Linked DNA regions of Homo sapiens: region 2 is linked to region 1. A link means that fine-mapping ties the variant in region 1 to the expression of a gene that starts in the linked region. Tissue or cell type: blood mononuclear cells. Region 1 holds a variant in brackets; the other region holds the start of a gene. All regions are shown on one strand. Distances are from middle to middle. Region 1 overlaps DNM3 (dynamin 3). Region 2 holds the start of PIGC (phosphatidylinositol glycan anchor biosynthesis class C).

Region 1 (5,383 bases):
TTGTGTAAGGTAGACTCAAGTTTGCAAGACTCAAGAAGGAAACCACCAAACTAATTTTACTTTCACTTAAACCAGATTGAAACCAAGACTTGAAGAATTAAAAACTTTGACATTAACCATTGATTCACTCCAATGAAATAATTGTGTTATAGCCAGAATCATGGTGAAATTGGAACAAGGCTTTTGATGGGATTTTTAATTGAGGGACTTATATTAAATTGGATATTTTCTTTAATGAACAGCATGTGGCCAAAATTCTATTTTCATTAAAGTATATTAAGCATCATGACAACTCATATTAAACCTGCAACAAATGATTAATGACATTTAGAGACTTCAAATGTCATGAGACACCTTAAATATTAAGAATCAAAAAGAACACCTCAAAGTTGTTTCTATTCTTAGTAATTATGCTTAAAAAAACATCTTTCCTTGCTTTGAAAGCCAGTTGCTAAAAATAAAAACTGTTCCATGAAAAATCACAATGCCCAATGATAAATTTATGTATTTGTTTTTTAAAGGGGGAGGATGGTGAGAAAAATAGAAAGCTCCTGGCTGACATCAGAGGTCACAAGATGAGTTCCTCATTTGTCCAAATGACATTCAGCTGCTAAAAGAAGTCAGACTTTTAGAGGGCTGTTGAAAAGACAGTAAGTCAGGAGGTTTTCAGTACATGACTGCAGGGGAATCAGACACAGGCTAGTCACTTAAGTTGCTTAATTGTCCGTGTACCCTTAGCCCACGACTTCAGGGCTCAGCAGCTTCATCCTTCATGGCACCAAACCTTGACGTAAGGGATTCAAAGACACACTCATAAGAATCGTGAATTTGTCCTCATGCAAAATTTGGGGGACTGGCTACAAAACCGAAACAAGGAGATCGTATCCCTAAGTGAAAGGGACTTTATATTAATTGTCAGTTATAACAATATGTAAAATACATAAAAGAGATAGAGCACTGCAGGCCATCAAGGTCAAACATTTGAAACAGAATTAAACTAAATTATAAGGAGGATTAAATGGCTTTTGTCTTTGTAAAGAAAAGAATATGCATGCATTGATTGCCTATGTAGAAGGATTAATAAATCTTTTGGCATGGTCGATTTGTAATAAATTACTGAAAATGTGGGATTACAATGAAACTCTTAAAGTGTGCCACATAAGTCAAGGAAGCCACCTAAGTCATGGGATGGGCATGAGTGAGACACTCTGGAATAATCTTGATGCTACTCTGGGACTGCCCTTGCAGGGTGGGACATCAGCTTCACTAAGGGGCTCACCAGAGACTCCTTCAAGGGAGCATTTCTTGGTTTCCATATTGTGTTTATGTCATTTTGATGAGCTGGAGTAAAACCCAAATCCTTTCGAATGATTCAGTTTTGTCTTTTTAAAGAGAAACCATCATACTTGGTGAACAAGGGTGGTCAAAAAAAGTACTTGAATATTGAGTGATGAGGTTAAAAAAAAAAGTTTCTTCTTGCTTGGTTGGAGACCCTTCCTCCCACCCTTATCCCCTTTTGACTATTGCAAAATAGCTTAGTCCAAGGAAAGGGAAGAAGACAAATGAGTGAAATAATGCCAGAGTTCATTATTGCCAGGAAAAACACACTCGGATTCAGTGAATTTGTTCCGTTAATGTCAAAGACTGTGATTCCCAATTAACTAATTTTAAGAAGCTATATCTGAAAATAGTTACATCAGCTCTAAAGTTAATGTCTGATGAAGATCAGGATCTTCAATTAAGAGAATAGGAACCCTAAAGAGGTGGTGATGTCTGTTTAAGATCATCTTGTTAAGTAAATAAATACACACTGGATTGGATTTTCAAACAGCATTTAGCCCCTTCAGAGAAGTTGAGTGGAGGTGAGAGGGGAGGTGACAATCCAGATATTCTGGCAATAGAAAATGTTCCACAAATCACTGATTTGTGTATACTCAAGTTACCAATGACAGAAGCATACATACTAGTGAATCTCTTTGGGATAGAGATGCTTCTCTAGTTCAAGTGGAATTAATTAAAACAGGCATGTAGTTTGCAATATTTCCAGCTCCCTAACTGAAAGGCTCCATGCACATAAACCAGAACAGCTTGAGCAGCTGAGAAAAGCTGGGCCAAAAATGACTCCACCACCTCTCTCCTTCCTCTCCTTTTATATTGGAATGGAAAGATACAATAATATATATTTTTTAAAAGCAGAACACTCATGGTTTCTGTACAATTGCAAGTGTGCTTTGATTACCTTTGAATGGCGTTAACATAAAAGTATATATGCTCTTAAAAGTCAAGATCATAACTTGCTAATGAAGTCGTGAATTATCCAGAAGAAAACTATGCACAAGCCCATGCTGAATGGCAGAATCTCTTGTCTCTAAAAGTTCAGTTATTGCCTTTGTAATATTAAAGCCCAACAGGGAGCTGGCGGGACACCTTTTGTGCTGTCTTGTCATGTTATAGGTTTCTGGTTTCAGATACAAGAGGAGAAAGGACCCTTAAGAAAGTAAAAAACTTGAAAAAAAAAATCAAACTTCCTTCTCTGAAAACAAAGGGTTGTTTTCCCAGAGATGATGGATAATGGCATTTCAACTTTCTAAGTTTTTGATAGAGAAAATGGAGGCAAAGCACAGAGGGGAAATAGAATATATTAAACAAACAGAATAAGGTGAAGTTTCAACAAGCG[C/T]TTCTCTCAATTTCTTTCTTTCTCTCGTTCTCTCTTCCTTTCTTTTTTTGAAATCTTAAACCCCATTTCTGGCTTGTATTTGGTAGGATTCCTGCTCTGGCTTTTATTAAAAACAGACTTTATGTGGTCAGAACTCTCCATCTAAAGCTGGATTTAACAGGCATGGGGATCCTGACAGAGTCTTTCTTGCCCTCTCTCAGGTGACCACCCCTCCCCCAGCCCCCTTCCCCGGGATTTCCCTCCCAAAGCGCTGAACCAGCACAGAAACTTGAAGGCTCAGCACAAAACAACAAACTTTCCTCTTTTACCCTGTACTTTCATTTCTGTTTTAAATTTGGGACTCTTTGCATGGCCAGATCAAGTAAAGTCTGGTTCTAACTTGAGAGTATTCTAGAAATTTCAAATAAGGCAACTGTCATCCTATAAATTCCCTAATGTAGTCTCATTAAGCCCTGCTGCCCATGTGCCGGCCATCCAGCTCGGGCTACTCATTCTCATCCGGCTGCCTTGTTCGTGCGAGCTGGAAAATACTAACGGCAACTCCACCCTGCTTAACAAGTCAGCTTAGCATTCAAAAGTTGATTTTTCTGAAGGGTACTGGCAAGCTAGCTCATCTGAAACCCACAGGTAAAGCAGTCAAGCAAGCAGGCAGAACATGCATGTTCATTCCCCAGGACAGGCACCACCAGTTTGCTCTGGTTTTTTCTCACAGCTAGACAGACAAAAGTAGCTCCTGCATGGCACTCCAGCCTTCCCACTCTCAACTCTTCCTCTTCCAATGGCCTCAATACCTTCCTGGTACAATGGCAGACACTTTCCTAGTCAATTTGAGGTTTTCTAAAATAATAAATTGGATCTTGCTTGTAGCAAGGCTCAATGCGGAAATTCATGGTTTTACATGGAAGGGAATTCTTTTGAATACTACAGTGCAGTGGTTCTCACGTGGAGAGGAATTTTACTCCCCTAAGGGACATTGGGAGTGTCTACAGATATTTTTAGTGGTCACAACTGGGGACTGCAACTGAAATCTAGAGGGTAGAGGGGAGGGATGCTGCTAAACATCTTACAATACACAGGACAGCCCTCCACAACAAAAACGTCAGTACTGATGAGGCTGAAAAACCCTGGGGTCATGGTCAGGAAATGGCTTTGGAAGCAGACTGCATGGGATTAAAGTCCAGCTCCACTAGGGACTGGCTGAGCAGCCTTGGGCAAGCTGTTTAACCTCACTGCCTCATCTGTAAAATGTGGATAACAACCTATTTGTTGTGAGCTTTAAACAAAAATGTATATACAAAGTTCTTAGGGCAATGCCTAGTAATATTGAGGGCACAATAAATGTTGGCTATTGCTAGTACTGCTATTACTAGAAATTTAGCACCATTCCAAATAATTTATAAGCCAAGTCTATTGAATTTAGAGAAAAAAAATTGGATTGAGAGTGTGTATATATCCTCTTTGCTTAGGACCAAAATGATAACAGTGGTAACAACTGTAGTCTTTACAGTGTATCAAACTCTTTCAAATACCTCATGTCATATGATCTGGGGAACAACCTTATTGAGTTCTCCCTGTTTCATAGATAAAGAACTCCCGTCTCAGAGTTAAATGAGTTGCCCAAGACCTTCAGTAACCCAGGTCTTCTGACTGCAAATCTCCTGCCTATTCTTGCTGTACCACCCTCTGTGTACTAGCTTAAGATCCCCCTTCTTCTCTTCTCTTCATTACGCTTAACAACTTGAAGATTAAAATAAAACGTAAGTGCCATAATCAGTTGGCAAGGTGGCTCAGGCTTCAGGGATGGGTAGAAGTCACATCTGTTTTTATGGTTCATATACAGTCAGATATTCCTTCATGGAGTATATAAATATTTTAATTCTCTGAATTGAATTTTTTAAAAATTAACTTTATATATGGGCTAATTTTCTTTCCTCTTTATATTTCTGATTTTGAGGGGGAAAAAAACCTTAGTACTTTATACCTTAAAAATCTCTGATTCTATTCATTGTGTATATTTTGACTGTAAGTATATGAAGGTGAGACTACAGCTCCAACTATGTGTGTTTCTAGGTCCATTATTTATTAGCTATATTGTTTCACAATTAAGCCTGAAAATCCACTTATAATTGTCAACACGTATTATTCAGATGTACAATGATCTATCTTATATATGATTAGTGACTGTATACAACAATCATGCCTATATTAAAATTTCTATGTGTAGTTTTTAAAAAAACAATTGCAGATCAATCAGCCAGATTTATTCAGCCTATATGAAAATTGGTAAAATTGAGTATAAGGATCACAGTTCAGAAGGCAGATGGATAAAATTCTCTAAGTCAGTGGTTTTCAAGAATTCTTTTGATAATGGAGAAGGCAAGACTTTAGTCCATGGAACTCTCATGACCTATAGAACACACAGCTTGCTACAATCCTCCATAGCTCTTTTGTTTCAAAGCCCTCAAATTCTCCCAATAGCTGCCAAAATGTCATTCATTGGGACGGAGTGTTCTTTAGTCCTATTTAGTCTGTGCCAATTGATAAATGAGAAATTTCAATGATCACAAGTGATTTTTAAATGGCATAACAGGGTTGGCAATTTTCCTATAGTCTCTGTTCATTGTGAAAACTGCAAACACGTACGATAAGATCTTTGCAATTTTCTCTTTCAAATAAATTTTGTCTGTCATTCTATGAGAAGAGAAC
Region 2 (5,383 bases), 53 kb before region 1:
AAAAATAAACAGCTTGGAACCCGGAGCTTTGGCCCACATGAGGAGCTTTTAATCCTTAAGATCTTTTGATACTTAAACCATCCTTTCAAAAGACTTTTCATTCCCGTCTTGTCCTCCTGAGAGCTCAGGGCACCTCAAAGGTGCTGTTCGGTCACCTTTGTTGTGAGGTAGGTATATTACATTTTTCTAAACAAGAATTAAGATTGCTACCCCAATCCTCCCAGAATAGCGATGAGTAGAGCTTCACTGCCTGCCTAAGGTAATTTCTCCTTGTGCCTAGCTTAGGTTTGGCTGGCTGGAGGAAAAACTGCCCACTCCCTTTCCAGTTGGCTGTCAACAGACTGTCTGCTCTGACCCTCCAGGACCTGGCTATGAAAGTGAACAGGTGCTGCCGATGCCCAGTTGTATTCTAGGCCTACCCTTCTCCCTGATCTCCACCCTCTGCCAAAGGCTTGTGTAATTAGAGACCAAGGGAGCTGGGGGCAAGAGAGCCATGCACAAGGATACTTTGCTCTTCGCTGCTGGGGCAGGTCTAATGGGCATGGGGGTAGTATGGGATGGTGGGATATTACCCTATTAGATCAAACACTAGCAATTTCACATAAAACATCCAGATTTCTAGTACTGTTAGAAGACCCAGTGGATCTGGCCTCTGGACTCACATGCCTGCAGGTAACACTGCTGGCGTGGGGGTGGGCTGAAGCGGGGAGGTGATTTCCCATTCATTGCAGTCCTGTTTGGCCAGCTTTACTCATTATGCCCCTCATCTGACTGTCATGGGCCTGTGAGTTTGTGTCCCACCCTCAATTAAAATATGCTAGACTGTCCTTACTCGTGCTGATCCATGCAGTGTTAACAACTCTTAATAAGCACTCTATCACTTAGTACTTTTGTTTCTTAAATAGGCCTTTGAGTTTATTGAACCTCTGATAATCTGCTTTCGTTATATTCAAAATTATGTAAAAATAACACAACTGAATAACGAGCACTTGAAAGCACTTGTGAATTTTGTTCTGAAAATACTAAAACCGTCTACCTATTTACTGAGAATGAGATTTTTTTTTAATGTACAGTAGACAAAGCAAAGGTACATGTTACTAAAGTGGGGATGTGGAGACAGTGATGGGAATTTGCTTATGAAGTCACTTATCCATGGGCAGGAGGGTACATGGTAGTTATCAACAGGAGGAGAAACTCTTTTTGGGGAGTCTGGCTTTTCTAACGAGCTGTTTCGAATGCCAAGGAGTCATTCCTTTTTAGTCTGTCGTGTGCCTTTGGAATGGCCTCTATGCCTGCCCTTTCTCTTTCTCTCTGCCCTCTTTCTGGTTTCTCTCATTCACCCCAACACTACCTCACACCTACCCTTCTGTCCATGTCCCCTTCCCAGAGTGGGGTTTATCACTACACTTAGGAACCATTTCATCAAAAATGGAGAAGGGACACGGTAACCCAATTATTTCAAGAGACAGTTGAAATGCTCCCTAGATATGTAATTCCTGCAATTTTGAAAAATAGATTTATGTGTCATATAGTAGTTTGTTTGGAAGGAGTAGGACTAACAGGAATGTAGGAGGGTGCCTCAAAGTTACATACAGAGTTACTATTCTATAAAGATGGGAACTTACTGTTCTAGACTTTTGATGGTAAAAATGTGAAAATTTCAGACTACAGCAGTGGAGAAAATGTGGGGTGAGAAAGAGGATGGAAGTGTTTTGAGAGACAGTGTCTAGGGGAAAAATTATCTTATACTGTTGAGTGGTAGTGGTGGAGAGGGAAAAATTTTGAGATCTCATCTCCTCTAGCCAGGCCTATACTCAGTGATCATTTTTTTCTGAGAAACCCGGATTATTTCTATTTTTAAAGCACTTGACTTGAGTTTCTCAATGGATCAAATGTGCCCTCTGATAATTGTCCCCATCCCTTAAGAAGAAATCATCTTCTGTGAGATGTTTCGTAAAACTTTTGCCCTCGGTGGCTGAGAGGTTACCTTCTGGGAAGGCTGAGCACTAATGGCTTGTTTACAAGGCTGGCCTCACTAAGCCAAGGAATCTTGTCAAATTTTGGAACAGAAGCCTAGAGGGAAATAGAGAACATTTTACAGAATATATCACACTTAAACATTGCTATCATTACGATGGCCAAAGTCAGCTAATAGCAGCCATATAGTGAACACTTTACAAACCATTTTTATATTTAACTCTTTAACCATCCTATAAAGTAGCCAAGTGCAAATAATGTCATCTCCATTTTACTGATGAAGAAATCAAAGCTCAGGTAGTGTGATTTGCCTTGAGTCACTGAGCTAGTAAATGGGTCATGTTTTCTGACTTTTATTTCCACTGTATCCTGTGTTTTACTACATCCCTTTGTTTCTTTATTACTTCCTTCTGTTTATATATCCTTTAATATTTCCATGAACTCAGTTTAATTAGCAATCTTGTCCTCACTTCTTTTAGGAGGTAAAGAGGAAAAAAACCAAGCTTTGAAGCTATAGACAACTGGATATTGATCTCTGTTCATCTACTTCCCAGGTGCCTGTCTTTGGACAAATACAACTTATCTGAGCCTTAGATTTGTCCTCTTTGAGGGGGGAGATGATATAATCAGTGTAAAGGTCAATGCACCAAAAAAGAGAGTTTCATGAGAGCAGCAATTTTTGTGTGTTTCATTCACGGCTGTATCATGAGCACCCCAAGCATGGCTTGTTACATGCAGGCATTCAATCAGTATCTGTGGAATGAACGCATGGATGCACGGGAAGTCCCAGCTGAGGGCCTGACTTAATAAAGGAGCGCAACAAAAGCGGCCATTATCTCTCACCTACTGGCCCAGCCTCTTTCCTTGTCCTCTCTTGCCTTACCCAGTCCTTCAGATGGCACATCCCATCTTTCAATAGGGGATTGCTGGGGATTTGCCTTCCTAGGCTCAGAGCATTCGGGTTTGGGCCAGTCTCCAGGAGAGGAGACCGGAGGTCCTTCGAGCAGCCAGGAGGGGGCAGCAGTCACGTCGCGATGGTTCCAGCCGGGGAAGGGTGCCCTCGCTAAGGAGATTGCGGCGGACCCGGAAGTGCTTGGCCACAGTCGCAGCCCCGGCGCCCCGAAGCGGGAAAAAGGCTGGGTGCCGCCGTCCCCCAGCTGCGCAACCCTAGGAACTCTCGGGTAGGTGGGTTCCGTGTAACGGTCAGTGTTTCCGGGGCTCCTTTTCCTCTGCTGCCTCCCGCAGACCCAAGGCTGAGTGAGGGGCGGCGGCGGAAGTGGGAGGCCCACCCAAAAAGCCAAATGGGGTGCCAGAAGAGTGAAGGCGCACCCTGGGGTCACCCTACCCTACCCCGTCCCCTCCCAGCCCCACTCTGCGGGCGGGCGCTGCCCTTTTGGGCGTCGCAGACCCTCCAACCCCGGCGGCGGCCTTAAGATTCCCGGGCTGGGATCCCTGCTGCAGAGGGGGTAACGGTGTCTGGCTTGCCAAGCAATATTTGTTGTGGTCTATCATGGAAGAAATAAAGTCGGGCAATATGAATTTTTTTTTTCTCAAATTTGCCGGATGGCTGTGGTGTTTCTGACTCTTAGTTTTCTCATTGTGAAAAAGGAATGATTATCTTCTTCGATCCTCTCAAGAGTTTCCTTGTTTTGAGTAGATTGATAGCTCTTTAAAGGATGCTAAGCTCAGCTAATGGAAGAAGAGTCTAGTTTCTTTGAGGCTTTGATTTTGGTTAAACTATAGAGCTCATACCTTTCTGTATGGTGCAGCTTACTATTGTCTTTGGATTGGTAACTTAAAAAATACAAATAACATGCCTTTGAGAACCAATAAAAACTATGGATATTATCCCTATAAATTTACACAAATCCAGATATAAGCATGCAATGTGATATACCTAAGGGATATGTGAACCACTGAGTTAAGAACTGCTTTAGAGGGAGATACAATGTGAGACACAGGCTTTGGGATAAGACTTTGGTTTGAATCCTGGCTCTGCTCTGTTACCTTAGGGCAAAGTTACTTAAGCATCTTGAATCTCAGCTTTTTTACCAAAGCAGGACTAATACTAACTTACAAGGTGGTGAGGATTAAGTGAAAGAAGATACATAAGGCACTTAGCACATAGTAGGTACTCAATAAGCGATAGCTAACAGATGTCTATTATTATTCAAGGAATTATAATTTTCAAATCTGAAATGCAGTTTTAATGTCCCATAAGGTGACTACCACATACATTTTTCTCAGACTTTTAGTAAACTGAGTTGATTTGACTTTATCTCAGTACTACTCTTGACCTTTCACAACTTTCGTAGGTTCACAGTCTCTCTTTTTCTAGGAACTTGGCTGTGTTGTCCTGCCTCAGAGACAAATTCATCTATTGTAGGCCTAGCCCCTGCCTTTGAAAACAAGGAAAGGTTGGTAGAACATCAACACAGCATGGAATTTCCAGGGAGGTCTCATTTCAAAACTTCATAAAGAACAAGAACCACCTGGACTTCTGTGAGGGCGATGATTAAACTGGCCTGAGTTTGAATGAAAGGATAATGTATGCTCAACCTGTGACTAACACCAAGGAGGTCAAGTGGCAGAAGGTCTTGTATGAGCGACAGCCCTTTCCTGATAACTATGTGGACCGGCGATTCCTGGAAGAGCTCCGGAAAAACATCCATGCTCGGAAATACCAATATTGGGCTGTGGTATTTGAGTCCAGTGTGGTGATCCAGCAGCTGTGCAGTGTTTGTGTTTTTGTGGTTATCTGGTGGTATATGGATGAGGGTCTTCTGGCCCCCCATTGGCTTTTAGGGACTGGTCTGGCTTCTTCACTGATTGGGTATGTTTTGTTTGATCTCATTGATGGAGGTGAAGGGCGGAAGAAGAGTGGGCAGACCCGGTGGGCTGACCTGAAGAGTGCCCTAGTCTTCATTACTTTCACTTATGGGTTTTCACCAGTGCTGAAGACCCTTACAGAGTCTGTCAGCACTGACACCATCTATGCCATGTCAGTCTTCATGCTGTTAGGCCATCTCATCTTTTTTGACTATGGTGCCAATGCTGCCATTGTATCCAGCACACTATCCTTGAACATGGCCATCTTTGCTTCTGTATGCTTGGCATCACGTCTTCCCCGGTCCCTGCATGCCTTCATCATGGTGACATTTGCCATTCAGATTTTTGCCCTGTGGCCCATGTTGCAGAAGAAACTAAAGGCATGTACTCCCCGGAGCTATGTGGGGGTCACACTGCTTTTTGCATTTTCAGCCGTGGGAGGCCTACTGTCCATTAGTGCTGTGGGAGCCGTACTCTTTGCCCTTCTGCTGATGTCTATCTCATGTCTGTGTCCATTCTACCTCATTCGCTTGCAGCTTTTTAAAGAAAACATTCATGGGCCTTGGGATGAAGCTGA

What was found.
Region 2: PIGC starts here. The variant in region 1 is fine-mapped to the expression of PIGC in blood mononuclear cells (TOPMed, PIP 0.93).

What each region holds. Positions count from the first base shown.
Region 1 is chr1:172,388,850-172,394,232 of GRCh38, reverse strand. All of the region lies in intron 20 of DNM3 (dynamin 3), which reads right to left. LOC102724528 (a long non-coding RNA gene) reads left to right here. Exons shown (of 3, transcript XR_001738294.3): 3 at 1-482. Among named protein-coding and RNA genes, the nearest start is that of C1orf105, 29 kb to the left of the region's middle. The variant C/T (reference allele first, on the strand shown) is at 2,678.
Region 2 is chr1:172,441,763-172,447,145 of GRCh38, reverse strand. PIGC (phosphatidylinositol glycan anchor biosynthesis class C) reads left to right here and starts at 3,077. Exons shown (of 2, transcript NM_153747.2): 1 at 3,077-3,158; 2 at 4,316-5,383. The coding sequence starts at 4,524. C1orf105 (chromosome 1 open reading frame 105) reads right to left here. Exons shown (of 7, transcript NM_139240.4): 2 at 1,988-2,073. RefSeq lists enhancers at 2,689-2,998, 2,722-3,245.